Regions from separate parts of the Homo sapiens genome. Here all the other regions are linked to region 1. The links come from fine-mapping of genetic effects on gene expression. A gene starts in region 1. Each other region holds a variant in brackets. All regions are shown on one strand. Distances are from middle to middle. Region 1 holds the start of WDR27 (WD repeat domain 27). Region 2 overlaps WDR27 (WD repeat domain 27). Region 3 holds the start of LOC105378148. Region 4 overlaps WDR27 (WD repeat domain 27). Region 5 overlaps WDR27 (WD repeat domain 27). Region 6 overlaps LOC105378146 (a long non-coding RNA gene). Region 7 overlaps WDR27 (WD repeat domain 27).

The links. PIP is the estimated chance that this variant, and not a neighbour inherited with it, causes the effect. A credible set is the group of variants that fine-mapping cannot tell apart.
Region 2: its variant is the best candidate, but not a certain one, in a credible set for the expression of WDR27 in whole blood (TOPMed, PIP 0.61).
Region 3: its variant is the best candidate, but not a certain one, in a credible set for the expression of WDR27 in unexposed skin (GTEx, PIP 0.78).
Region 4: its variant is the best candidate, but not a certain one, in a credible set for the expression of WDR27 in lung (GTEx, PIP 0.82).
Region 5: its variant is the best candidate, but not a certain one, in a credible set for the expression of WDR27 in whole blood (INTERVAL, PIP 0.57).
Region 6: its variant is the best candidate, but not a certain one, in a credible set for the expression of WDR27 in liver (GTEx, PIP 0.73).
Region 7: its variant is the best candidate, but not a certain one, in a credible set for the expression of WDR27 in whole blood (TOPMed, PIP 0.59).

Annotation. Positions count from the first base shown.
Region 1 is chr6:169,700,403-169,704,402 of GRCh38, forward strand. It overlaps WDR27 (WD repeat domain 27), which reads right to left and starts at 1,627. Exons shown (of 26, transcript NM_182552.5): 1 at 1,149-1,627. C6orf120 (chromosome 6 open reading frame 120) reads left to right here and starts at 1,724. Exons shown (of 1, transcript NM_001029863.3): 1 at 1,724-4,000. The coding sequence starts at 2,058. The coding sequence ends at 2,633. PHF10 (PHD finger protein 10) reads right to left here. Exons shown (of 12, transcript NM_018288.4): 12 at 3,500-3,686. The coding sequence ends at 3,601. RefSeq lists enhancers at 1,181-1,260, 1,581-1,670 and a silencer at 1,721-2,090.
Region 2 is chr6:169,658,796-169,662,795 of GRCh38, forward strand. It overlaps WDR27 (WD repeat domain 27), which reads right to left. Exons shown (of 26, transcript NM_182552.5): 9 at 3,509-3,629; 10 at 1,868-1,971; 11 at 656-723; 12 at 291-412. Among named protein-coding and RNA genes, the nearest start is that of WDR27, 41 kb to the right of the region's middle. RefSeq lists an enhancer at 2,124-2,623. The variant C/T (reference allele first, on the strand shown) is at 2,278.
Region 3 is chr6:169,340,981-169,344,980 of GRCh38, forward strand. It overlaps LOC105378148, which reads right to left and starts at 3,533. Exons shown (of 4, transcript XM_017011621.2): 1 at 3,279-3,533; 2 at 1-59. The variant G/A (reference allele first, on the strand shown) is at 1,811.
Region 4 is chr6:169,505,775-169,509,774 of GRCh38, forward strand. All of the region lies in intron 25 of WDR27 (WD repeat domain 27), which reads right to left. Among named protein-coding and RNA genes, the nearest start is that of LINC02519, 120 kb to the left of the region's middle. The variant C/T (reference allele first, on the strand shown) is at 1,799.
Region 5 is chr6:169,605,442-169,609,441 of GRCh38, forward strand. The region is part of intron 22 of WDR27 (WD repeat domain 27); the gene reads right to left. Among named protein-coding and RNA genes, the nearest start is that of WDR27, 95 kb to the right of the region's middle. The variant T/TAC (reference allele first, on the strand shown) is at 1,952.
Region 6 is chr6:168,950,950-168,954,949 of GRCh38, forward strand. It overlaps LOC105378146 (a long non-coding RNA gene), which reads right to left. Exons shown (of 4, transcript NR_136250.1): 3 at 2,152-2,290. Among named protein-coding and RNA genes, the nearest start is that of LINC01615, 210 kb to the right of the region's middle. RefSeq lists an enhancer at 1-26. The variant C/T (reference allele first, on the strand shown) is at 2,446.
Region 7 is chr6:169,564,715-169,568,714 of GRCh38, forward strand. The region is part of intron 25 of WDR27 (WD repeat domain 27); the gene reads right to left. Among named protein-coding and RNA genes, the nearest start is that of WDR27, 140 kb to the right of the region's middle. The variant A/C (reference allele first, on the strand shown) is at 1,664.

The sequences.
Region 1 (4,000 bases):
TTTTCCACTAAGCCACTTCCCTTTCCTTCTAGACACAGAACTAAACTACACTCCCTAGCTTCCCTTGCAATTAAGTGCAGCCATGTAGTCGTTGAGTGCCTGGCCCATAAATTCCTCCTGCACTGCCTCTCTTCTTTCCCCACCCACTGGCTAAATGCGGAGAATTCAGAGGGCCTAAGGAAAAAAACCACAACATGGAAGAATTTTAGGCTGCAGCTTGCAGAGAGCTGCCCAAAGGAATCGTCTGACTAGAAACCGCTACACAGGACTGTGTGAGCAAGAAACATGCAACTGTTCTATTGGGGTGAATTGCTACAGCACTTAACCTACCTCCACTAATATAAATTGTTTAACATTTTTTTGAATTACAAAAGCAATACAATACAAAACATTTAAACAATGCAGAAATAATAAAGTTTTTTATCCCTACCTCCTCTCCCTGCTGTGCCAACCCTAGGGGATAATCAATGTCACAGGATATCCCCAGGAATATCCATGTACATACATGCACAGAACAAGTCAGGGAAAATAAACTAAATTTATTATTTTAGTGAGATTCTAGTGCACCTAACACTAGGTAAGCACTTCAGGAAAAGGCAGTGACAAGTGATTGCTAAAGATACCATAGTCTTAAAGTTAAGTCAGTAAACACAAGATAGTAATCCCAGATAAACTGGAAGCTGTAGAGTTAATACTCCTTTACTGGTACAGAGCAGTGTGTGTAAATTGTAGAAAATTTAGAAATACATAAAAAGATGAAAACTCTACTACTCGAGGAGTACCACTGATAAAATCCTGTGCATTTCCGTTTTTTTAATGTACATACGAATATTTTTAAAAAGAGAAAATTACTCCCTTCTGATTAGAAAAGATCGAAATTTTTCTCTTTTAGTGATAATCAAGTCAGAAACTTGCTGTTTGGCTCGAGTTAGGAAAACCTAGCCTGGTAGTTACCACGCAGGTTGAAAGGCCAGTGGGGCATAATTAACGAGCCCTCAGGGTCCACGCTCCCGCCCTCGGAGCTCAGAACCGACGGGAGGTGCAGGAGGCCGGGCATTTCTACAGCCCTGGTTCGTTCCTAAACTACTGAATCTTTTAAAGAGATCTGAGTGCTCCTTATACACAGCTGCTTTAATTAAAATAACCACCTGAGCCCTTTTCCTCCGAACTCCACATGCGCTCAGTTCTCAAAGCGCCGATCTCAAGCGGCCGCCCGGATGCTCCGGCCCGACTTGTGCCCCGAATTCCCCTGGAGACCCTCGCACTAGCACGGCGTCAGGAGGAGGCTTCGGGTGACGAGACAGCGGGCAACGGCTCTGGTCCAGAGCGCGCGTGTCCGCCGTTGGAAGCGGTCACGGCGGAACCCTCAAATCGCCCCCTTTCCTAGAGACCTCAGCGGAGCCGCGAGCAACCGCGCAGCCCCCGCGCTCCAGCCCTGCGCCCTAGGCACACGCCCCAGAGCAGCAGCTCGGGTTCGGCGCCGACTCCGCGCCGAGACCAGCCCGCTAGGGGAGGACTCACAGCACCCAGCTCCCAGGAGGGCACGCAGAGGACTACCGAGCCACACTCCGCCCCACGCTCGCCGCTATGGTTACTTGCCAGCCGACCCACGCGAGCCGCTATGGTTACTAGCCCGCCGCCCCTCGCGCCCACGCCCCTTTCGCTATCTCGCGACAGCTGGAGAAGCCTCGCTTCCGGCCGGCTCACTTACGGACCTAGCGTCACTTCCGCCTCCGGCGAGGCTCCGGCCTCGGGTCCGGATGTATAAAGCGCGGCCCCCTGCGGGGAGTGGTGGTGAGTCCGAGGGTGCCACAGCGGCCCTGCCCCTGCCCCTGCCCCTGCCCTGAGTGGGCGCCGCGCTACGGGGGAGGGGTTAACCCACCCCTCCTCCCCGGGGCCTCACGCGGGTGGGAAGGGACAGTCCCAGCGACAGACCAGGCGCCTGGACGCGCCGTGGACCCGCGTGCGGACGGCGGGGACAGGCTCCGGTGCTGAGCGCCTCCGGTGTCCCCAGCAGCACTGACCCACTTGCAGGCCCCGGAGCTGAGCCGCCAGCCATGGCCGCTCCCCGCGGGAGGGCCGCGCCCTGGACGACGGCCCTGCTGCTGCTCCTAGCCTCGCAGGTCCTGTCTCCGGGAAGCTGCGCGGACGAGGAGGAGGTCCCCGAGGAGTGGGTGCTCCTGCACGTCGTCCAGGGCCAGATAGGCGCCGGGAACTACAGCTACCTGCGGCTGAACCACGAGGGCAAGATAGTCCTCAGGATGCGCAGCCTCAAGGGAGATGCGGATCTGTACGTCTCCGCCAGCAGCCTGCACCCCAGCTTCGACGACTACGAGCTGCAATCGGCCACCTGCGGCCCGGACGCCGTGTCCATCCCCGCGCACTTCCGGCGCCCAGTGGGCATCGGCGTCTATGGACACCCCTCCCACCTGGAGAGCGAGTTCGAGATGAAGGTGTACTACGACGGCACGGTCGAGCAGCACCCGTTCGGCGAGGCCGCCTACCCCGCCGACGGCGCAGATGCCGGCCAGAAGCACGCTGGTGCCCCGGAAGACGCCTCGCAAGAGGAGGAATCTGTTCTCTGGACGATATTAATTAGCATTTTGAAACTGGTACTTGAAATTCTCTTTTGAGTCGTTGACCACACTCTGGGATATAAAACCCTCCATCTGTGAAGCTGATTGCAGTTTGCTGTGAACCTTGCTACTTGTACTTGGTTGAAGTTCTAGGTACCTTTAGTCAAGGGATGGAAAAATAAAGCCATACGCAGTTTTGTTACCTCAGTTACCCCAAAAATAGGAAAAGCAGCAAGCACAGTATTTTAAAGATCATAATTCCTATAAAAGGACTGTGCACAAAGTGTTTAGACTCCATTTTCATTAGGCAGGTTGACTAAAAATGATTGCAGTAACAGGTTTATATAAAATAGAGCAACCTTTCATGCTGTGACACAAATCAAAAGGTTGATAACTTTGTAATTTTACTCTGGAGATTCTAACCGAAGTTGGTGTAAGTTTTCAAGAGTTACTAAAATCAAGTTGGAAATGATTTACGTACACTTCCCTGAGCCTGGACTAAAGCCTCATGCCTGTACCCCAAGTAGGTGATGGTACTTTTCTATACAAAAAGGATTTCCTGGCAGGCAGGTATTTACAAAGTTTGTTCCTGTACCAGTCCAATAATGACAACTCTAAATCCAGCTGCACCAAATCTTAGTGGGCCATTTGTCATACCTATGAAAATTCTTCAGTTATTAAATAACTTTGTCAGTGCTACCTATGGTAGGCCGGAAACAATGTAGATTAGGAAGTTTCATGAAAATTAACTTTTGGGGCTATGGAGAAACAGTTAAGTATCTTAAGTTACTAAACATTTCCACTGAATTTTTGGAGTGAGCCAAGGTTACTATAAAATACTTTGGAAGATGAATTCTCTACCTGGAGTTAGTTTCGAGAGTAAGCGTAGCTTTTAACAGAAATAACTGCAGATTTTAAGCTCATAATTTGCAAAAAAAATCTTTTATTGGCATGAAAATAATGTTGTAAATGGCACCAAATATTCCACTTAAATGCATATACAGTATTAGAGTCAAAAACTATTTTATCCCTCTTTGCTGTTTTTCCCCCTTCTGCCCACTTTCCTGGGTGTTGGGGGGGCCCGCTGACAACAGTCACAAATCCAGCGACCTAGGAAAAAAATTGTTAATATAGAATGAAAAATTATCTTTACAGGACTGAATTTTAAGCCCATCTAAACTCTTCTGCCTTAGCTATCACTAATGATATTCCTCTCTGGATTTTGTGGTGAGAAGGGCACTATGAGTTCCTTAATTTAAGGAAAAAATGTAAACTTAATCAATGTAATCAATGCCATGCAAAATTCATTGCAAGTCAAGGGGGATGGGAGAGATGCAATGCCATACGGTGATACGGACCTTTAAGAAAGTACAATCTTTCCTGAAATTCAAACACTATCATACTTCAAAAGGTCAAAACCCATT
Region 2 (4,000 bases), 42 kb before region 1:
GCCTCAGCCTCCCGACTAGCTGGGACTACAGGCGCCTGCCACCATGCCTGGCTAATTGTTTTTTGTATTTTTTAGTAGAGATGGGGTTTCACCATGTTAGCCAGGATGGTCTCGATCTCCTGACCTCGTGATCCACCCGCCTCGGCCTCCCAAAGTGCTGGGATTATAGGCGTGAGCCACCGCGCCCGGCCAGAGCTCAGAGTTTTCTAATCTTTATTTCTGAACATAGAAATCCAGATGGCACTTATTGGTGAACACACACACACACTCCACACTTGAAGACACTCTACCTGGCTGGCACCGAGAGGCTCTGCCCCATGCTGGGGCACTGCTGAGCCCTGACTAGCGCGGCCGGGTTGATCTCCAACACGGCAATCTTCCCGCCAAAGAGGGAGGCCAGCAAGCACAGCACCTGCAGGGACGCGGTTTCAACATCGTTAGCGACACCACCCAGTAAAAGCAGACGAAACGTGCATCCGCACACGTATCCTAACAGCTGCTTCATTCTCATAGCAGCGACATCGCCCTGTCACTCCTAAAACGTTTTTACACACAAAATCCCGTTTACTCAGCCAGTCGTTACAGGATCACTCTGAAGAAAGAAGAAATCAGAGGCACGTCTCATAGACAGGGAGGGCCGCGTCTCAGGACTGACCTTTTGATCCGCAGTGCGGTTCCTCAGGGCACACGATCCGGCCAGCAGGATGCTGAGGCTCTGGAAATCTTCAGTTGAGCGAAGACCAGGAAGAACATGATGGGGAGGGAGGTAGCACATACACACGGAGTCACTGCCCAGAGCCCACCACACACAGCCCAGAGCCCACCACACACAGTCCAGGCCCCACCACACACTTTGCAGGCTGTGCACCACATCCTCACACATACAAGGCCCCAGGCCACACACACACCAGCGCACACACCACACACACACCAGGCCCTGAGCGTCACACATGCCAGGCTCCGCTCTGAGGCTGGGATGTGACTCGGACTGAGACCTGCAGCTCAGCCTCCTGGAGAAGCCACATGTCCAGCACCAGATCAGAAAGGAAATGTGTAATTAGAGCTGTGACCATTTGGGGGAAGGAAAGGCTGAGTTTTCAAGGAGAAGCTGCGCCTGGCTGAGCTGGGGAGGGGCAGGGATGGGCGGCTGAAGGGAAGGGCGTGTGTGAAGACACAGATGCATCCCACAGCCCCACAGAGGTCTGAGCGTTCAGGGCTAGAAAGGAGGCACCGAGAGGAGCAGTGCCCGGGAGGCCGCCGAGGAGGCCCTGCTGCAGTGGAGGAGAGGGACGGAATCCAGCCTGCTTTTCAGAAGTCGCCTGGGCTCCTGGGCAGAAAGAGTGCGGCTGGTGGCATCCATGGAGTTAGGAGGGGTGGGGGGATGAGATGGGGGTCTTGGGGGAGGGGGTGGGGGTGGAGGTGACTATTCCTACATTTCTGGAGCTGGCAGAAACTGGGGAAGGGAGCCAGGGTTGGAGAGGAGTGCGCCTCGGCCGGGTTTACGCTGTGCGAGCCTGGGGCTCTGGGAGGCTCTCTAAGGATGGTGGAGAATCCAGGGGCTTCCCAAGGGTGTTCCTGCAGGTGTTCCACGCTGCTGGGGCCCGGGCGGCCTGGAGTGCCAGGCGAGGGCCTGGCAGATGTAGGCAAGGAGTGGCTCCAGGGCTGAGTGCCCGAGGGTCCGGGAAGGGCCCTCGTCCTTCGGATCCAGCAGCACAGAGGTGCTCACGTGCTCAATGCTGAGTTGTGACTGAAGCATCTCATCCTCAGATTCACACGGCAAGGCCTTCTCCACAAACACTTACACTACCCCACATACCAGTCAAAGGAAAACATTACAGTTACATGGCGTTGAAATCAAAGATCTTACCCTTGTAATACAAAGCAGCTTCCACTTCCAGGTTTGCCAGGTTAAATACGAATAAGCCCACTGAGCTTCCGATCCACACACATCGGGTGTTCTCAGAAGAAAGACTGATTTAAGGAAAAAAAGAAAAGAATACACAATAATCTTATTCCTGAAGGTTGGGCCCCACGTGCGCCCCCTGGCCTGGCTGTGAGCTCTCCGCAGGAGTGGGGAGTGTGGGCGTTGGGCCCCACGTGCGCCCCCTGGCCTGGCTGTGAGCTCTCCGCAGGAGTGGGGAGCGTGGGCGTTGGGCCCCACGTGCGCCCCTTGGCCTGGCTGTGAGCTCTCCGCAGGAGTGGGGAGCGTGGGCGTTGGGCCCCACGTGCGCCCCCTGGCCTGGCTGTGAGCTCTCCGCAGGAGTGGAGAGCGTGGGC[C/T]GGGGCAGGTTCTTGCCAGTGAGAACCACATCTGTGCCAGGCTGGCCACATCTGTGCCACCAACGCATTTGTGGTGATCCCCTGGGCACCTGCTAATGTCTGTGAAGACGCTCGCTCTGACCTCTGTGGTTTCTATTTTCTTCTAAGGTTACAGAAAAGGTCAGTGCCAGTGCCTGGGCCAAGGCCACTGCTCAGGTAGCCTCCGAGTGACTAGACTTGAAGGCCACACAAGCTGCCCACCTCTGTGAATAAGGAACCAACTCCAGGAGGAAAGTAGCTGGCCCGAGGCGGCAGAGTTAATACCAATGCCAACGGGGTCTGTTAATACACTGAGAAGCCATCTCCAGGGAGGCTGGACATGGACTTGGCAGAGGCCCCCAGCTGGAACCTGCTTTCCAGACCTCCCCTCTCCAGCTCCGCCCCAGGCAGCACCCTGGGCTCCTCCTGGGCATCCACCAGCACCAGTCCACGGTTCACCCAACGACCATCGTCAACAGAATGGGTCATGTGGCTCTGGCTTAGCTCTGAGGGCTCCCTCTGCTCGAGGTAAGCCAGGGAAGCCTCAAAATGCCTCAGGTCCATGCACCCACCGGGAGCACCGTGTCCAGCCTCCATGCCCACCCTGCTTACTCTCTGTGGTTTGGACCAAGCAGGGAATATTCTGCTCCAGGGGCAGCTCTGCACAGAGACAAAGACAAGCAACGGCCAAGGCCATTCAAAGCAAGGTTGCCCCCTAATCTCAAGCATTTTGGGGAGGAGAAGTAAACATAATTGTAATATATTCTTGAATCACAGTTAAACAGTACTTCCTTATGTTGCCAAATATGTAATAATATTTCTACTGAGCACAGAAATAAATAAAATTAGTCTGGGGTTAACTTTAAATGTGTAATGTATAGCACAGCGGTAGATGGGAAAGTCTAGGCCATTCCAATCACCATTTCCTCTTTCTAAAGAAAAAGTTGTATCACAGAGGCAAAGATCTGCCTAGACTTTGGTAATAAACTTAAAAATCATCCAATTCCTTTTATTAAAGACACTTACGTATCATTGCCCAAGTTTACCAACTTTAAGATTTAAAACATGCAATCCCAAGAATGAAGTTACTAATAATCAGAGACCAAAATAATTTGGTTTTATCTCAGTCATTCTTAGAAAATGAACCTAATGTTCATCTAAGGAATTTAAGAGGTTTCCTTTATGTGGCATAGGCAAAGTTTTTGATACTTACCATCCACATGCAGAATTTGGGATGAGTGAGAGATCACAGGGTGCAAGTCTCAGTACAGGAAATGTTACTTCAACCTGCTCTCCTTTTCCCAGAGCACTTGTAGAGGGAAGCTGGCTTTCTTCTAGGGACAGAATTATTGAGAATCTAAGAAGTGAACTTAAATGCATCCGTCAAGTTTAAAGGCTGAGGACTGCCACACAGAGATGCTGCAGTGAATGTGCACCGTGGAGTCACTCGGATCACGCGTCGAGGAAAGCACTAAGGTAACACCCAGCATGACGCGTGTGCACCACGGAGTCACTCGGATCACGCGTCGAGGAAAGCACTAAGGTAACACCCAGCATGACGCGCATGCACCGCGGAGCATTCGGATCACGTGTCGAGGAAAGCACTAGGGTAACACCCAGCATGACGCGTGTGCACCGCGGAGTACTCAGATCACGTGTCAAGGAAAGCACTAAGGTAACACCCAGCATGACGCGCGTGCACCGC
Region 3 (4,000 bases), 360 kb before region 1:
GATTCCTGGTGAACCAGCTTTCTCTCCACTGCAGGGTCTTCACAGGAGCCCAGGAAAAGCTGGTGTCAGAGAAAGACCCCAGGCAATCAGAGCCACACCCTTCCCAGAGGTGCCAGGATCCTCCTACACCCAGGTTGTGCTAGGGCCAGTTCTCCTAACAAGAAGAGAAAGCCTCGGACCCCAAAGACAGCCTTTGTGCAGGACGGAACCACCCACCCAGGTCGGCCCATTGCAGAAGGAGGCAGCCAGAGCCCAGTGAGGAGGGGAGGCCACCAGGCCAGGGAGCAAGCGTCTCCCAGAGGTGTCGCTTTCCCTCAAGATCCAATTATCCATGACATTTCAGGAAGGTATATCCATCACCTAGGAGGTTCCTCTGGGCGACCACTGGCTACCTTCGGCCACAAACCTTTCTGGTTAAAAACATGAGGAAGTTTAAAAAATGCATGACACTTTTCAACTTTTAAAATTGCTAACTATGAAGTTCTAATGTTTGGAGACCTTTATGATGACCCAACTCCACCTAATGAATAGCGAATATGTTTTCTCCTCCCTATGACTTTTTTAATAACCTGTTCTTTACTGTAGCTTAGGTTATTTTGGAATGCAGTATATAATACATATAACAGCAACACGTGTCCATCGTTTATGTCGTCCCGAGGCTTCTGGTCAATAGTAGGCTATGAGTAGTTAATTTTCTTGGGGGTGCAAAGTTACATGAAGATTTTCAAATGTGTGGGGAGTCAGCACCCCAACTCTTGCATTGTTCATGGGTCAGCTGTGTATATTTTAGGCCCCATGAAACAAGGAGCTGTGTGACCAGGGCCCTGAGCAGCCTCCAGACTGGCCATACTGCCCGGCTCCATCTGTGCACCCTCTCCCTGGCCACACTCACCCGACTTAGATGTCCGTCTGAGCCTGCCACCTGTCACACCCACACCAAATTCTGGCATGTGTCCTGCCCAGATGACTTCACCTGCTGCAAAGCTCCTTCAGCGTCAGGTCTCTGCCTCCTTCTATGTCTCATCCTCTTCCCCACTGTTTCTTCTCCACTTCCCATGCAGGTGAGCCCCTAACAATGACCAAGACCCCCGTCCTTAACCCCACTGCTCTTGTCCAAGAGGGAATCACACTGTCTGGTTGATACGTTCTAGGCTGGAGTTCGCCTTAGTCTCCAACCACTTCAGGCCTTTCTCAGTCCAGCCCATTGTCTGTCTGCTCAGTGAACCTTCCTGTTAACTGCCTCTGTCGCTGCAGTTCCTACAAGATCCCGCCGGCCCCAGCTGGGAGGGCTGGACTGGGTGAGATATTTAGTCAGAGGCATCCTGGTAGTAGAGGAATCTGAGCAGTGTTTAAGGAAGAAACCCAAAGATCAAGCTTTTGTTCATATGTAGGCTTACTCTTAGCATGGCCACACCACCTCCCTTCCCAGGGCCTGTCCTGGTTCACGCCTGAGATGCTATGGAATTATGAACGGCCACTTGCCACTCTCAGAAGGATCCCAGTCCCCGCTCCCGATGATAAACTATAGAGTCACCCAACTTAAACACCACAATTTACACACACTGCAAACTCATCTATTTTCCCAGGGCTGTTAATACTGACATAAACTGGACTCACTCAGCCTTGGGGACACTGGAGGGTTTACACTCCCACAGAGGAAGAGCCTGTGGTGGACGCTGGAAGCCCTTCGATTACACAGAAAGAAGGAAGGTGCTTGCAAACACATATATTTTACTATTGACTTAGGTATCAGTTTGCATTGCTATAGAAGCTTACATCAGCTTCTATTAAAACTAGGTTCTGGGTTCCT[G/A]GTTCTGACTCATATGATTTTGGGAAGAGTGTTGGAACTCTGTGCCAGCCTGTTCCTAGGGAAAGGAGCCAGGACTAAGGAGCTGGGCAGAGATGGTGAACCGAATCGTGCCCTCATTGTTCAGAGAACAAAAGACTGAAGACTCCCAGAGGCATAAAACAGCTTCCATGTCTCACTCACGTGGTACAGCTGTAAGGGTGGGGCAGAAGGTTATATGCATATGGCTATTTTTTTTTTTTTTTGGAGACAGGGTCTTGCCCTGTTGCCCAGACTCCAGTGTAGTGGTGCAATCTCAGCTCACTGCAGCCTCAACCTTCTGGGCTCAAGCAATCCCCCTGCCTCAGCCTTCTGAGTAGGTGGGACCACAGGCATGCACCACCATGCCTGGCTAATTTTTTGTAGAGACAAGGTTTAGCTATGTTGCCCAGGCTGGTCTCGAACTCCTGGGCTCAACCAATCATCCCCCTCAGCCTCTCAAAGTGCTGGGATTACAGACATAAGCCTCTGCACGGGCCTCATAAGGTCATGTTTAGAAAAGATCATTGTTACCCACAATCTCAGGATCAGCCAAGTTGCATAACTCCACAGCTGCCATTCACATTTCATTCTTGGATTAGGTGGGTTCACTGTGCTAGATACCACAGGTCAAAAAAGATTGTCTGGGCAATGGTCTAGAAAGTGTGAAAGGAAATTAAATCTTGGGACCCCAAACTCATTAAGCCAAAGGGAAAAATTAAGCTGAGAACTGGGTGCTGCAAACCTGCCTCCTCTTTTTGGTTCCTAATTGATGAAAAGCTACATGCCTCTCCCATATTTTGCCCACAAGGAAATTCCTAGTATGCTCCAAGATCTTTAATCTAAGGTGTTTCTGTGACGATTTCACCACGGCAATGTAAATTGACAGCTTCTCTTTATAGCTGCACTCACCCCCGGCCCACCAGACATAAATGCATATCTGATTGTTCCCCTGCCCCATTTTGTCTGTGATCTTCTGTAAAATGCAGATTCCCTAGGTTTTTCCTCTGCTCCATCTGTCTACGTTGTCTTATGTTAAAAAAAAAAAAATGCAGATTCACTGAGCCAGACAAAGGCATGATTATTTTTCCCTATCCCACATCTTCCATGAAAATTGTGACTATCTCACCCTTTCCCCTTTAAATTTGGAGCCCTCAGAATCGTCTTTGGAGAAAGGCATAGATCTGTCTCCTGGGCGCGCATTCTTAACTTGGCAAATACACCTCCTAAAATGATTGAGACTTGTCTCGTCATGTTTCTTGATTGACAGAAGCTAACACAGAGAACATTTTTAGATGAGAAACCCAATAAATTTTAAGAAGTTTGCAGAGTGCATTGTAACACGTGCCCTTGGAATCAACCCTATGATCTTCTCTCGCTCTCTCTTTCTCTCAGTAAAGGAATACACGGTTCTTATTGTATATACATTATTGTAATAAAAACAAAGTCACACCTGCCTAAGGAACGAGGTGCCACATCCTCAGTCGGAGCCTCTGGGCAGGGCAGGAGGCAGGAGGTGCTCGAGGGAAGTCTCACCTGCCTCTGCCTGAATCCAGTTGCTTCAGAGGCTGAGCACACCGTGAGCCAACTTCCACTTCATTCGTCAGGAAACCTATTAAAATGTTCACCTGGGGGTGAAGGTTCCTTGTGGTTCATATTCATTTTTAATCCATTTGTTATTTTTGAGATGAAATTTCTCCTGGGTTGAGAAATGATTTCAGTTTAGGGGAAGTATTGGCTGTGTCACTGTTTTCCACTCATATTCTTATTAAGAAATATATTGGCTTTAAAATATTAAACTTTGACTGACTTTATTCTTTTGCTACTTTGGTCCTTGGAGACAGCCACAGAGCAAACTGTATTCTACTCTTTTGGATTCCCTTATTGTCACCATGTCAGGCTTACTTAGGCAGTAGATGCATGATGCGAGGTGTCCCCAGGTGGCAGGGCAGGGAGGTCCCTCAGAGACAACCCACTCCCTGACCCTGATCCCATTCCTGACACCCGGGCAGCGGCACCAGGCTGTGGCTGCAGCAGCACGATCTCACCAAGGGAGGATCTGTTTGTTTTCCAGGTCTGGACTTCATTCTTCGCTCAGCTGGTTGTTATTACGGCCTTTGCAGTAGCAGCGAGAGATTAACCACAGCCAAGTCTCTAAATTTTGACACAGATTCA
Region 4 (4,000 bases), 190 kb before region 1:
TCACAGTCATCTGGAAGGCTTATTAAAATGCTGAGTGCTGGACCCTCCCAGATTTTTGATTCATTAGGACTGGGCAGGGGACCTGAGAATCTGCTTGTCTAACACATCACAGTGATGCTGAAGCTGCTAGCCAGGGGGCCACACTTCGGACACACTGCACGCTGCCCACATGCACCACTTCAGTCAGTGTCATCATCAGAAACACATATACCACCTAAACCCCCTAAACTTTTAAACTCATAAACAAAGCTCCCAGAAGTTAACTCTACAGCAGACATTTGCTTTTGTACATTTTCCTTTGTTTTCAATGGAATTGTAATTTATTTACAATTGTGCAGTATTTCATCTGAGCTAAAAATTAAACACTGCAACTTTAGAAGCTCTGAAGAATTTCCAAGCACTAATTTTCCCTATTTTTCATTTTACTTTTGTTTTCCTTTTGATGGGAGAAAATTGGCATAAACATCACATTCATTTGAGATTTCCAGGGAGACACTGGTCAGGATACATTATAATCCGTATGCCATTAAGATACTCTGTCTTACCTAACAAATGTTGAGCAACTGTAAATTTTAATCTGTTACATGCTGACAGAACTTGAGGTAAGTGATTAAAAAAATCAAGGGTGTTGTTGGTGCTAATCTTAATGGAGTAACTTTCTCAAATGTCTGGATTTATAATTTCTAAATTTTGCCTCCTTAGTAATGACTGTCTGGAAGTCCAGTGAAACAAAAACATTGTGCCCAATTAAGAGCAAGTTTGATTGAGTAAGGAGAGAAACATGGTGATTCCAAGAATGAAAGAAAGCCATAGACGGCAACAAATTCACAGAAGCACATGAGTAGGGTAAAAACATGGTCATTACAGATTAGCTGTACACCTACATTTATATCCTCAAAAACTGTGTGTCCTTTGCAGTAAATATATAGTACTTTGGAAAAATAGATTGTACTGCAATCAAAGGTGAACAAGAATAACATGGACCAGAGATGTGTTAGTTATAACTTGGGACACATCAACAGAGAAACAGATATTTCCACATGTGGCTTGGTTGTTGGACAACTTCCATATGTGTTCTTCTGCTTTGATTAGGAATCCATTCATTAATTTGGTATAACTGAATGTGTACCTTTATTAAATGCTAAATGATATGGACTTTAAACTACCTTATTATGTAGCATATTAACTGCATTTAGATGCATCTATATAAGGATTAGAATTTAATCCAAACAACACTTGACATTCTAATGGCATAAAATGAAATCTGATTAAACATTACTTTCAATTGTGTAATGTTTTAGAAATAAAATATTTTGAGTCCTAAAAAACACTATTCTTTCCATTTCAGATTTGATTTTCCAAATTCTACTTTGTGTTTCCAACTTTGTTTCCTAACAAGTTTGGTTGAGAATAAGGTAAGCACAAATGTGGACATGTGGCATCTATAAGCTGCCTTTTTTCCCCCTTTCCTGTCCTTTTTGACCTGACTTATTGAAAGGAGTTTGAGGTGGGGAAAGAAAGAAGCAGCACGTGTGTAAGATTGTTTTGACTGGGGAAGGAACATCAATTCACTTGCAGGTACACACCCACAGTGGTTCTGGGCACACGGCTGGGCACGCTCTGCTTCATAGATGTTCTCAGTGTAACTACCCATGACACTACTCCATCTTGACGGGGCTCACTGAGAGCTTTCATCCTTTCAACTGAGTGAAGACATATTGTAACCTGGAGCATATCAGCCAGAAGCATGGTTGACAGGTTGGAGCTCCTAGATCCCTCACCCAGGACAGAAATTCTA[C/T]GCTTCTTGTCTGCTAATAGCAAACCCCACCAGCCTTCCCTGTAACTTTCAGGAAAGTTTTCAGCAAACTATGGCTCATGAAACAGACCTGCTCATTGCCTGTTTCTGCATATCCAGTAGATAAGAATAATGTTTATATTTTGAAATGGTTGAAAACACTAAAGAATATTTTTCAATGTTCATAAATAAAGTTTTATTGGTACACAGACACATCCTCTTGAGTACATATTGTCTGTGGCTTTCTTGACACATGGTGAAGTGGAGTGGCTGTGATGGAGACCACATGTGGCACTCTCACAGCTTCACAACTGTGCTAGCCACTCTACAGGTCACAGCAATGCCCTTATAAACTGACCTTCCAACTGCTGCATGTACTTCTGTACTATGAATGGTTTATTTTAAATCTTCATAGTATACCCATCATGTCAAAACACGAAGAGAAAAGTGGACCTCAACTGCCATGCTTTTAGGGCACAGCAGAGTGTGGATTATTTTTATACAGATGAATGGCAGAGCATTGTGTTTCATATGCTGTGCACTCCAGTGGAGCTGAAAGGACTCCAGAAGCATCTATATGACCAGACCAGGCTCACATAAAATCGGCCCAACTCACAGGACAGCAGTGATCAGAAAAACAAAAAAACTTAAAACAGAACATCTCAACACAGAGAATTTATTCAAAAAATAAAAATACATTAAAATCAAGCTACAAGCAAAGTAACTTTCTGAATGGCTTGTTAGCCAAATGAGGAAAGCCATACACCAATTATTAGTTGATTAAATCATGGTTGATTGCAGCAGCCAGAGAAATGCATCAGAGCAAATAAGCTCATCTGAGACTGTTAGGTTTTTGGCTAGAAGAGATGTTCAAGAGTTGAGGGCAAATTATTTTTAATTTCTTTTTTTTTCACTCAATGACTCAACAAATGTTACTGTACTACTTAGTTGTTGTTTAAGAGTGAATAGTCTAAAGTGACTGAAAATTAGTCTCTATGAATTGTCTGCATGGAACAATTGCACACAAGAATATTCTGAAAGGATTTGGGAAGACAAAGATTCAGTACAATCTGAAGTGGAATCTGCTAAGATGTGTTACAACTGCAGGTGGTAAAACACATCAAGAAATATGAGGAGAAAAGGCTTAAACAACTTTACAACACTTGTGGAAATGTAAAGTGTTTAAAACTTATAATTATGTATTATATTATCAGTAGATACTTTGTAGAAAATATTTGAATCTATCACGTTATTAAACCAGTAGCATAAATGATGGACTTTATTCACTCTGGTATATTTAACTTTCATCCTTAAAGTTTTGTCAGAAACGGAAGCTACATGTCCTGAGCTGCCCTCCACACAGCAGCCACATGGCTCCATAGCAGTCAGGTTTTATCGTTGTTGTTGAGCTCAGGATGAAGACAAAATTTTCCAAATCATGAGTGAACTCCCATTCACAATTGCTTCAATGAGAATAAAATACCTAGGAATCCAACTTATAAGGGATGTGAAGGACTTCTTCAAGGAGAACTACAAACCACTGCTCAATGAAATAAAAGAGGATACAAACAAATGGAAGAACATTCCATGCTCACGGGTAGGAAGAACCAATATCGTGAAAATGGCCACACTGCCCAACGTAATTTATAGATTCAATGCCATCCCCATCAAGCTACCAATGACTTTCTTCACAGAATTGGAAAAAACTATTTTAAAGTTCATATGGAACCAAAAAAGAGCCCGCATTGCCAAGTCAATCCTAAGCCAAAAGAACAAAGCTGAAGGCATCACGCTACCTGACTTCAAACTATACTACAAGGCTACAGTAACCAAAACAGCATGGTACTGGTACGAAAACAGAGATATAGACCAATGGAACAGAACAGAGCCCTCAGAAATAATGCCGCATATCTACAACTATCTGATCTTTGACAAACCTGACAAAAACAAGCAATGGGGAAAGGATTCCCTATTTAATAAATGGTGCTGGGAAAACTGGCTAGCCATATGTAGAAAGCTGAAACTGGATCCCTTCCTTACACCTTATACAAAAATTAATTCAAGATGGATTAAAGACTTACATGTTAGACCTAAAACCATAAAAACCCTAGAAGAAAACCTAGGCAATACCATTCAGGACATAGGCATGGGCAAGGACTTCATGTCTAAAACACCAAAAGCAGTGGCAACAAAAGCCAAAATTGA
Region 5 (4,000 bases), 95 kb before region 1:
CAATGAAAGAAACTACAGATAATACAAACAAATAGGAAAACGTCCTATGCTCATGGATCAGAAGAATTAATATCATTAAAATTAACATACTGCCCAAAGCAATCCATAGGTACAATGCAATGCCTTTCAAAATACCAATGTCATTTTTTACATTAAAAAAAAAAACACCCTAAACTTCATAAGGAACCAAAAAAGAGCCCAAATGGCCAAAGTAATCCTAAATAAAAAGAACAAAGCTGGAGGCATCACCTTCCCTGACTTCAAATTATACTACAAGGTTATAGTAACCAAAACAACATGGTACTGGTATAAAAATAGACATATAGACCAATGGAACAGAATCTAGAACTCAGAAATAAAACTACATATTTACAGTCAACTGATCTTTGAAAGCTGACAAAATCAACAATGGGGAAAGGACACCCTTTGTAATAAATAGTGCTTGAAAAATTGGATAGCTATAGGCAAAAGAATGAAATTGGACCCTTATCTCTCCCCATACACAAAAATAAACTCAAGATGGATTAAAGACTTAAGTGTAAAACCTGAAACTATAAAAATACTAGAAGAAATTCTAGAAAAAACACTTCCAGACATTGGTCTAGGCAAAGAATTCATGACTAAGAACTCAAAACCAGAGGTAACAAAAATAAAAATAGACAAATATGACTTAATTAAACAAAAATACTCTGCACAGCAAAAGAAATAATCAACAGAGTGAATGGAAAACCTGCAGAATGGGGGAAAACTTGCAAACTATGCATTTTACAGGGGACTAACATCCAAAATTTACAAGGAACTCAAACGACTCAACAAAAAATACCACAAATAAATCCATTAAAAAGTGGGCAAAGGACATGAATAGACATTTTTACTTTATTTAAAGTTCCAGGATACATATGCAGGATGTGCAGGTTTGTTAACATAGGTAACATGTGCTATGGTGGTTTGCTGCACAGATCAACCCATCACCTAGGTATTAAGCGTCACAAGCATCAGGTATTTATCCTGATCCTCTTCCTCTCCTTACTCCGCTGACAGGCCCCAGTGTGTGTTGTTCCATTCCTTGTGTCCATGTGTTCTCATTGTTCAGCTCCCACTTATAAGTGAGAACATGCAGTGTTTGGTTTTATGTTCCTGTGTTAGTTTGCTGAGGATAATGGCTTCCAGCTCCATCCATGTCCCTGCAAAAAACATGATCTTATTCCTTTTTATGGTTGCCTAGTATTCCATGGTGTATATGTACCACGTTTTCTTTATCCAGTCTATCACTGATGGGCATCTGGGTTGATTCCATGTGTTTGCTATTGTGAATAGTGCTGCAATGAACATATGCATGCATGTATCTTTATAATAGAATGATTTATATTCCTTTGGGTATATACCCAGTAATGGGATTGCTGGGTCAAATGATATTTCTGGTTCTAGGCCTTTGAGTAAATGCCACATTGTCTTCCACAATGGTTGAACTAATGTACGTTCCCACCAACAGTATAAAAGCCTTTTAAAAGAGGATATACAAATGGCCAGCAAGCATATGAAAAATGCTCAACATCACTAATCATCAGAGAAATGCAAATTAAAACCACAATGAGATTTCATCTTACACCAGTCAGAATGGCTATTACTAAAAAAGCAAAAAGTAACAGATACTGTCAAGGATGCAGGGAAAAGGGAAAGTTTATACAATGCTGATGGGAATGTAAATTAGTACAACCTCTACGCAAAACAATGTGAAGATCTCTCAAAGAACTAAAAATATAACTACCGTTCATTTCAGAAACCCCACTGCTGGGTATCTACCAAAAGAAAAAGAAGTCATGATTTCAAAAAGACACATGCACTCATATGTTTATTGCAACACTGTTTATAATACCAAAGACATGGAATCAATCTAAGTGCCCATTAACAGGCGACTGAATAAAGAAAATGTAGTATACTTGTGTGTGTA[T/TAC]ACACACACACACACACACACACACACACACATATAATATAATATTATTCAGCCATGAAAAAAATGAAATCATGTCTTTTGCAGCACATGGATGGAAGTAGAGGGCATTATCTTAAGTGAAACAACTCAGAAACAGAACGACAAATACCACATGTTCCCACCTATGTGTGGCAGATAAATAATGTGTACACATGGACATAGAGTATGAAACCATAGACACTGGAGACTCAGAAGGGTAGAGGGTGGGAAGGGGATGCAGGAAGAAAAATTATTTAATGGGCAGAATGCACATTATTTGAGTGATGGATACCTTAAAAGCCCGGACTTCACCACTACAAATCTAACCATGTAACAAAATTACACTTGCACCTCCTAAATATATACAAATAAAAAATAAATAAGCAATAATCACTAGAAAATGGATGTTGTTGGCTGTTTGCTGAGTACTAAGAAGATGCCAGGAGTTAACTACACAGTCATGCATCACTTAATGCCGGGGATACATTCCAAGAAATATGTCGTTAAGCAATTTTGTCCCTGTGTGAATGTCACAGAGTGTACTTACACATACCTAGATGGTGTAGCCTACTACACACCTAAGCTGTGTGGTGTAGCCTATTGCTCCTAGGCTACAAACATGTATAGCATGCAACTGTACTAAGCAACTGTAACACAATGGTAATTATTAATATACCTAAACAAAGAAAAGGCACAGTAAATATATGGTATAAAAGGAAAATGAAATCTCCATACTGTTTTCCATGGAACTAAAAGTAGATTTCTTACAGCACTAAAAGCAGATCTGGCATACAATCCAGCAGTCTCACTACTTGGTATCTACCCAAAGGAAAATAAGTCATTATATCACGAAGACACTGTGTGTGTATGTTTATTGCAGTACAATTCACAATTGTAAAGATATGGAACCAATCTAAGTGCCCATCGACCAATGTATTAGTCCATTTTAATGCTGCTGATAAAGACATACCCTAGACTGGGCAATTTACAAAAGAAAGAGGTTTAATTAAACTTACAGTTGCACATGCCTGGGAAAGCCTCACAATCATGGTGGAAGGCAAGGAGGGGCAAGTCCCATCTTACATGAATGGCAACAAGCAAAGACAGAATGAGGAAGAAACCTCTGATAAAACCATCGGATCTCATGAGACTTATTCACTACCACAAGAACAGTATGGGGGAAACTGCCCACATGATTCAATTATTTCCAACCAGGTCCCTCCCACAACACATGGGAATTATGGGAGTACAATTCAAGATGAGATTTGGGTGGGGACACAGAGCCAAACCATATCATTCCACCCCGGCCTTCCAAATCTCATGTCCTCACATTTCAAAACCAACCATGCCTTCCCAACAGTCCTTCAAAGTCTTAACTCATTTCAGCATTAACCCAAAAGTCCACAGTCCAAAGTCTCATCTGGGACAAGCCAAGTCCCTTCTGCCTATGAGCCTGTAATATCAAAAGCAAGCTAGTTACTTCCTAGATACAATGGGGGTACAGGCATTGGGTAAATACAGTCATTCCAAATGGGAGAAACTGGCCAAAACAAAGGGGCTAGAGGCCCCATTCAAGTATGAAATCCAGTGCGGCAGTCAAATCTTAAAGCTCCAAAATGATCTCCTTTGACATCAAGTCTCACATCCAGGTCACACTGATGCAAGAGGTGGGTTCCCATGGTCGTGGGCAGCTCTGTCCCTGTGGCTTTGCGGAGCATAACCTCCCTCCCAGCTGCTTTCACAGCCTGGTGTTGAGTGTCTGCAGCTTTTCCGTGCTCATGGTGCAAGCTGTAGATGGATCTATCATTCTGGGGTCTGGAGGATGGTGGCCCTCTTCTCACAGCTCCACTAGGCAGTGCCCCATTAGGGACTCTGTGTGGAGGCTCTGACCCCACAATTCCCCTTTGCACTGCCCTAGCAGAGGTTCTCCAAGGGAGCCCCACCCCTACAGAAAACATCTGCGTGGGCATCCAGGTGCTTCCATACATCTCCTGAAATCTAGGCAGAGGATCCCAAACTTCAGTGCTTGAC
Region 6 (4,000 bases), 750 kb before region 1:
CACTGGCCCGGCCTGCGCGCTTTTCTGCCCCGGCACTCGCCAGCTGCCCAGTCCAGCTCAAGCCGGGATTTTCCACGGCTGCCTCTGAACGGTCTCCAAGCCGCAGCTTCCTCTCCTCCTTCTGAGCTCCAAGTACCATTGCTATAAGGGGACAGGAGCAGGGTGGGAGATTGTCCTGAGTCTTGACTCTGACTGTGCTGTGTGCAGGGTTATCACCTTTCCACATCCCACTTTCTTCGTCTTTACAGTGGGGAGAGCAACTTTTACCTTTCCCATCCCGAAGCAGGGCTGTGGTGGTAGGAAGATCAAAGAAATTGCTTTAGCTTTTAAAAATAGACAAGAAGCCAACAGTTCTTGGGTGGACGTGTCAGACCTGTTCCCGACAGGACAGATGGCAGCACAGCCAGACCCGCTCAGTGTCCCAAGAGCAGCCCCGGCAAAGCAAGGCGGGAGCCGCCCCTCACCAGCCCAGCTGTGCTCACACACCCCCTCTGCAATGTCGGATGGTTCACAACAGGATTTATCGTTTTCTTTAAAGTCGCCTTGTGGAAACTCTTGTATCCCTTACTCTCTTGTGCTGTTATTGAAGGTTTAATGGGTTCGTTTTGACTCCTCAGATAGACTGTGCTTGATATTTCTTGCAAGCTCAACACGATGGCTGGAACATGTAAGTGTGTGAGTTAAAAACAGTTTGGGCTGCTTTTTAATTAGAACTATTAAAAAAGAATTTTGGTTGCTTTTTAATTGGAGCAATGAAAAATCAAACGATCACCTGCTCAAATCAGAAAATTCTTAGTTTTCCAACTTAGTTTATAATTTCCTTCCTTATATCTTTGGGTTTAATTTGCAGTTCTTTTCCTAGTTTCGGGGGGCAGAAGCTCTGAGCCTTTACTCCAAAACTCTTCCTATTAAATATATGCAACTGAAGCTATACAATTTTCTCTAAGCACTGCTCTAGCTTCGTCCCTCATGTTTTGATACGACACTTTTTATTATTTTTCAATTCAAAACATTTTCAACATCCATCGTGCTCCTATGCGTAACAGCGTGGAAGTGTTTTGTGTGATTATTTCAGTCATCTTTCTGTTGTGTTACAGTGTGATTGTGTTGTGCAGGAAAACATAATTTGTGTGATTTTACTTATCTTTTTATTTTTAATTTGTTGAGATGTGTTTTATGGTCCAGTCTGTTTTGGTAAATGTTCCTTGTTCCCTTGATAAAGAGTTTACACTGCAGTTGTTGGGTGCAGTGTTCTGTATACACCAGTTAGGAACATTTAGTTGTGTCCCTAAAGGCTATTTTTATACTTTTTTTTTTTTTTGGTTTGTTTATTCTCTCAGCTTCTGAAACAGGTGTTAAAATCCTCAACTATGCTTTTGGATATTTCTCTTCTTCTGCTTAGTTAAGTCTTTTTTTTTTCTATACATGTGTAGCAATGTTATTAGGCACGTACACACAATTATGAGTTTTGTATCTTCCTGTTTTTATGAAATGTAGCTTTTATCTTTAGGAATATTTTTGCCTTAATTAAACTCAACTGTCTCGTAGTGCTATAGCTACCTCAGCTGCCTCTTAAACACAATGTGTCCATGACTCCCACTCTATAGACATTTATCTTCAGCCTGCCTGTATGATTTTATCTAAAATGTGCCTCCTGCAAATTTCATATTGTTGGGTTCTCGGTTTTTCATACAGACCATCTTTGTCTTCTGATTAGATTGTTCAGTTTTATACATTTAATTACTAAAATAATTGTGTTTAAGTAAGTCTACCATCCTACTATTCTATTTCTCTTGTCTGTTTTTATTTCTTTGTTCCATTTTTCTTAATTCCTTTCAGATAAATCAAGTATTTTCATGTGCTGATTTTTCTTTTTCATTATATTTTAGTACATTATTTTATTATTCTCTTAGCAGCTACCCTAAGCATCTTTGAGTAGCTAATGTTTAAAGTAGTAATTTTAATATTTCTCTGAAAATACAAGAAGCTTCCAATAGTTAACTCCATTTTGCACTAATATAATATAAAATTTTACTTATGCACACCTTATAAAACTTGCACTACATTTTTACAGTTGTTGTTTTAAACAGTTTTTCTTATTTTCACAGTTTCTGGAGTGTGCTTCATTCCTTCCTGATGATCTCTGCTTACCTGTAGGATCTTCTGGACTTTTCTTTCAGCTCAAGAAACTTCTTTTACTGTTTAATGTCATTCTGTGGCAGGAAATTGATCAACTCTTCTCTGACTTGAAATGTCTTTATTTCATCTTATGTTTAATGAGGTATGATTGCTGTAAAATAAGTTGCATATATTGATGAATACTGATACAGTGACATATTGATTTCCCATGAAAACATGTGTTTCTGTAAGCAAAAGGCTTCCTCATGTTCCTTGGTGTCCATTCCTCCCTCTGTTCCTGTCCTGAGGCAACTGTCAGTTTGATTT[C/T]TGCCACTGTAAAATGGTTTTCATTTTCCAGAATTTCATGTAAATGGAGTCTTGCAGTGCATGCTCTTTCTTACTTTTAACCTGGCTGCTTTAATTTCACCTGACAATTTTGGGTGCATCGTCCACTCATTGCGTCCCCCAGTAGTTTGTTCCTTTTTATGGCTGAGTCGTTGCCCGTTGCATGAGCACAGCACAATTTATCTACCCATTTACCTGCTAATAGACATTTATATTATTTTCTATATTATTTAATATATATATTTAATATATTATTTAATATATTATTTTTATATTAAAAATAAAAAATGATATGAGCATTTGTATCCAAAAATTTGGGTCTCAAATGTATTAATTCTAGGAGTAGAATATCTGAGTCATATGGTAGGTGAATGTTTAATGTTTTATAAATTGACCACACTGTTTTCCAAAACGGTTTACATTCTCAGCCGAAGTGTATAAGAGTTGAAATTGCTCTGCATCCTCACCAGCGTTTGCTATGGTCATACTTTTAAATATTAGATATTCTCACACGAGTGCAATGGTATTGCTCTTATGGTTTTAACCTCCTTTTCCCTAAAGACTAGTACTGTTGAGCATCTTTTCCGTTGCTGATTTGCCATTTGTGCATCTTTTCTTCTTGTTGTTGTTGTTGTTGAAATATCCATTAAAATATTTGTCCAACTCAGTCCACAAATGTACTGAGTTGTTTGTTTTCTTACCATTGTGTTATAAATTATTTATATATTCAGAACAAAAGCTCTTTTTCAGATATTTATTTTGCAAATACTTCCTTTCAGTCTATTAAATAATTTTAATGATGTCTTTTGAAGAATAAAAGATTATAATTTTCATTTTTTTAAATTTATAATGTATAATTTCTTGTGTCCTCTTTAAGAAAACTTTGCCAAACAGAAGATCACTAATCTTATGTCCTATTTTTATTCCATAAATGCTATTAACTAATTATTATTGGCATTTATAGAAAATTCCTCCAGACAGCAGCAAAGTATATCTTTAAATTGAAATATTTCCCAAGATAGCTGATAGTCTGTGCCATAGACTAAACCTTAAACATGAAAAAAGAGTAGAAAACAAGCAAAGTATGTTCTGAAACCATAATGAAATTAACTGAAAATAAACAAAAATATATCTGGAAAATCTCTGAATATATGGCAAATAAACAACACACTTCTAAATGAATGATGGGTCAAAACTGAAGTCTTACACTAAACTAAAAATATTTTGAATCAAAAATTAAAATACAATATATCAAAATTATCAGGATGCAGCTAAGCAGTGCTTTGAGGGAAATGTAGAGTACTAAGTGCTTGTAATAGAAATCAGGAAACACCTAAAATCAGTAATATTACAAACATCTCTATGCCCAAAAGGAAACAACTTACATGAAAATTAAAAATGTTTCTACCTGTAATAATGAACATTTGGAATTTGAATTTTAAAAAAAATGTCATTTGCACAACATGGCTGGGCCTGGAGGACATGATTCTATGTGAAATAACCCAGACACAGAAAGAAAACAATTGAATGATCTCAC
Region 7 (4,000 bases), 140 kb before region 1:
AGGCTCACCCATCTGCCCTGGGAGTGGCCCTGACTTCTCTTCTAGCACTGGAACGCTCCATGGCTCCCATCTCCCAGCCCAGTTTTCTGGCCCTGCCCCCATTCCGTCAGCTAGCCCTTGATGTGCCTCAGGTAACCAAACGCGTGAGTGAGTGAAGTAATGAACGCCCGCGTCCTCATGCCAACACCCATGTGGACCCCACACGCAACCACAGGTGCAGAACGGGTCGGGAGTTAAGTGACCATGCCAGGGACCAGCACACGAGAGCCGGGGAGACCCCCACCAGGTACGCTGTCAGCGAGCACTCCCTTCCACCAGCCTGAAGCCTCGCCGAGCTGAGCCCAGTCTAGCCAAGCCTCAGAAGCCTCCCGGCCTGGGAGTGCAGTCCCGCCACCTTGCTTACACGGCGGGAGATGTGTTCTGACCAGCACGGGATAGAAACTGCGAATCAAGAGATACCTAGTACTCCCTTCCCAGTGAACAAACTGCTAACGTTGTTGTGTGTGCTTCTGCCGAGACTGAAGGCCAGTTTCCAAATGCAAAGCCTAATTTTTGGGGGGCAAAATTTTATACCAAGATTAAACTTTAGTCACTCACCAGAAGACTAAATTTTAATATGCAGTTCTACATAATATTCTAAATTAGAAACATCTAAGGAAATCCAGACTGTATTTCAGATAAGGCGGAACACTGCCCCGCATCTGGGATCCATTTAATATTTCAAAGGGACCCTGAAGTCTCATCCCCTAAAAACACCCCCACCAGGTATTGGAAATCTGTATTTCCCCGCTTGTCTTACGCAGTGGAGAAACTGAGTGTCCCGTTCACAATGTGTGTTCATAATCACACAGATGCTGGAAGGGTTCGAGCATGCACACAAGCCACTTCATTTCCTTTACTTAATCTGTTCCTAAAGAGTCAATGTTAAAGAACAAGTTTTGTAAACCAAGTAACATTTTTAAAATTATTCTGTTTTTAGGGATAGGGTCTCGCTCTGTTGCCCAGGCTGGAGTGCAGTGGTCCAATCCTGGCTCACTTGCAGCATCGACCTCCCAGGCTCCCGCGTAGCTGGGACTACAGGCATGAGCCACCACACGCAGCTGATTTTTCATTTTTGTAGAAATCAGGTCTCACGATGTTGCCCAGACTGCTCTCCTGGGCTCAAACGATCCTCCTGCCTCAGCTTCCCAAAGTGTTGGGATTACAGGCGTGAGCCACTGCACCTATAGCCCCATTTTTTAATTAACTGATAATTATGAGCTCAGCTTTGACTTTTATGATCAATGTGTCTTCAATAGCTCAGTTTTGTCTGTTGTTATTCATTAGAAGAAACCAGATCAATTATGTAAGAAATAAAACATTTTGTAATGTATTGTTACTCGTTAGAAGGAACCAGATCAATTATGTAAGAAATAAAACATTTTGTAATGTATTGTTACTCGTTAGAAGAAACCAGATCAATTATGTAAGAAATAAAACATTTTGTAGCGTAAACAATAGCACCACTAGACAAAGCTCTGATTCTGATTTCTAAAATTCCTCAAGTCAATTCTGAGAGTGACAGCAGGGAAGAAAGCTTGTGGCTAGACAGCAGCCCTGCTCACCTGGGCAGTGGTGAGGGCAAGGTGGTCTGACAGCCCTTGCTCCTGGCAGGGAGCCCCCA[A/C]CCCACAGAGGGGCCGGCCCTCCAGCACCTGCCACAGACCCTGAGAGTGGCCACTGTCCCGGGGGCCTCGAAGAGACTCTCAAACCACGTCACGGGATGAGAAACAAAATGACAACTCAAACTATGTCACGTGATGAGAAATGACATAAATATTTTGACGATGACCATTAATTGGTTCTCACTGTTCTGTCATTTATTAAGATGGGCATGTACTGAGTATTTTTGTATTGTTTAAAACAAATAGCCAAGGAACCTGAATTTCGGGGCCTGTTGGAGTTGAGGCAACGTTAGAGACTACTGGAGCACTCACTCTCACCCTGGGTGTTGCGAGGCTGCCACGCATACATCCTGTAGAAACGCTTTCTAAAAAGGATAATCAGATTCCAGTGTGGGGGATTCGGACAGTATCAGGACTGAATTTGGTAACAAAATCAGCCATAGTCTGTGCTTGACTAAGAACATGCACAGATGTGCATTTGAGACAGTGGATAACAAGTGTGGACACTGAAACTGGGAACTCAACTGTAAAAACAAAATTAATATTTACTCTACTTGGCTCCATTTATTAAAAATGCATAATAGGCCAGGGCAGAGGGGAGGCATCCCACATAGAGACACCTCAAGTGCTGGGCAATGCCTGAGAGCCTCAGGCACCAAGCAGGCCAACAACGATGTCTGCGTGCCCCAGAGTCTGATAGGCAGCAGCCCGAGCCAGGTGGGGCTGTCTGGGGGACCTTTGGAAATGAGTCAGGCACTTTGGGCTGTGACAGTGACACCTGGGGTGATCGGTGCTGCTGGGGAGGACCCGGGATGCCACACATCTGGCATCATGTAGGTCAGTCACGCACACTTTGGCTTTGTCCGTGATAAACACCATTTGAACGGGGCCCTTCCCTGCAGGTGTGAGGAGTCCAGGTTGGCGCAGTTACAGAGAAGGGCACCCTCACAGACGGTCTGCGTGGCAGAACAGTGCATGTGCCTGTTGTGGAACTGACTAGTTTAGGAGTATCACTTTCTGGCCAGTGTGAAATTCCCAGTAAGATGTCCTCAAGTTCTAAGTAGCTTGGCTTCTTATAGAGACTTCCTGGCTAAATGAAGCCAGGGCAGGAACTCCTGGGGGGCTCCCTGACGCTCCCCAACAGCAAAAGATGAGAACTTCACACACAGCACCAGGCGCAGACGCTCTAGTGCAAGAGCCTAGGAGGTGCTTCCAATAACCACAAGCAAGACTGAAGGCGGCGTGCTGAGAAACACAGTGTGGCCCACACCTGTGCCACGCTCTGAAACAATAAAACTGTACTGCCGGGAAGAAATTTTGGAAGCTCTCTCCAACCCCTTCAGCCCCACAGCGGATTCCTGTCTTAGAAGAGGCAAAACCCAGGGCTGCGAGTCCTGCTTTTTAGGATGCTCCCAGGACCTGCACCTCTCTTTCCACACCAACTTGGAAGCTGCAACTCTGAGAATAAAGTCGGAATCCCACAGAAGAGGAGTGAGAGCGGCGGTCCACTGTGTTCCTAGAGAGGCTGGCCCTTGTACCCCAGCCACTCTGCAGACGTAAAGCTGGGAGGAAGGGCCGCCAGCTCCAGTGCTGAGAACACAGCGCAGAAAAGCAGCATCTGTGTTCCAGGATGAGTAAACAGAGACCCAAGGGAGCTGCCGAAACCGCACTGTAAAGGAGAGGGAGCGTCAGCTCCACCAGGAAGAGCGTCTCCCTCAGCAGGGCTTGGGGAGACCAGTGGTTCTCAAACAGGTCCGTGGAAGCCTGAGTCTGACAGCAATCACTCAGGAACCACACTCAGGAACCACAGACTGAAGGAGAAAGAGGCAGAAGGTGAGTCCCAGGCTCTGCCACCACCCAGCCAGAAAGCCCCCATGATTGTGCAAGGTTCCATTTGGACAAAGGGTTTCAAAGTAAAAAAACACTGAAAACCACTTCTGAAGGAAAAAAAACATTTCTTATAACATACTTGCTCCACATCTAGTACATGTCTTCCATGAAAAATAAGCAAGAATCTGTAGGAGCCAACAGGAAAGGCACAGCTGAAATGAGACAGCCATGCCCAGGGAGTAAGGACACAAGCTCACTCTTCAAGTCACTGCACTCACTACTTCAAGTCACTAAGCTCAGTAGGGACCTGCAGCTGTGGGAAATAAAGTGGATGATGTAGAAGACCCAGTTGAAAACAAATTCTCAAAATGCTGAAGAAGAGAACATAAACCCTAAAATGCTCACTTTCTCTTTTCAAAGAAAATAAAATTAAGCTAATTGGTTGACAAACAGGGAAGACCCAACTTTCCAATCCTACATATTCTTGAAGGACAGATGGAAACGGATGG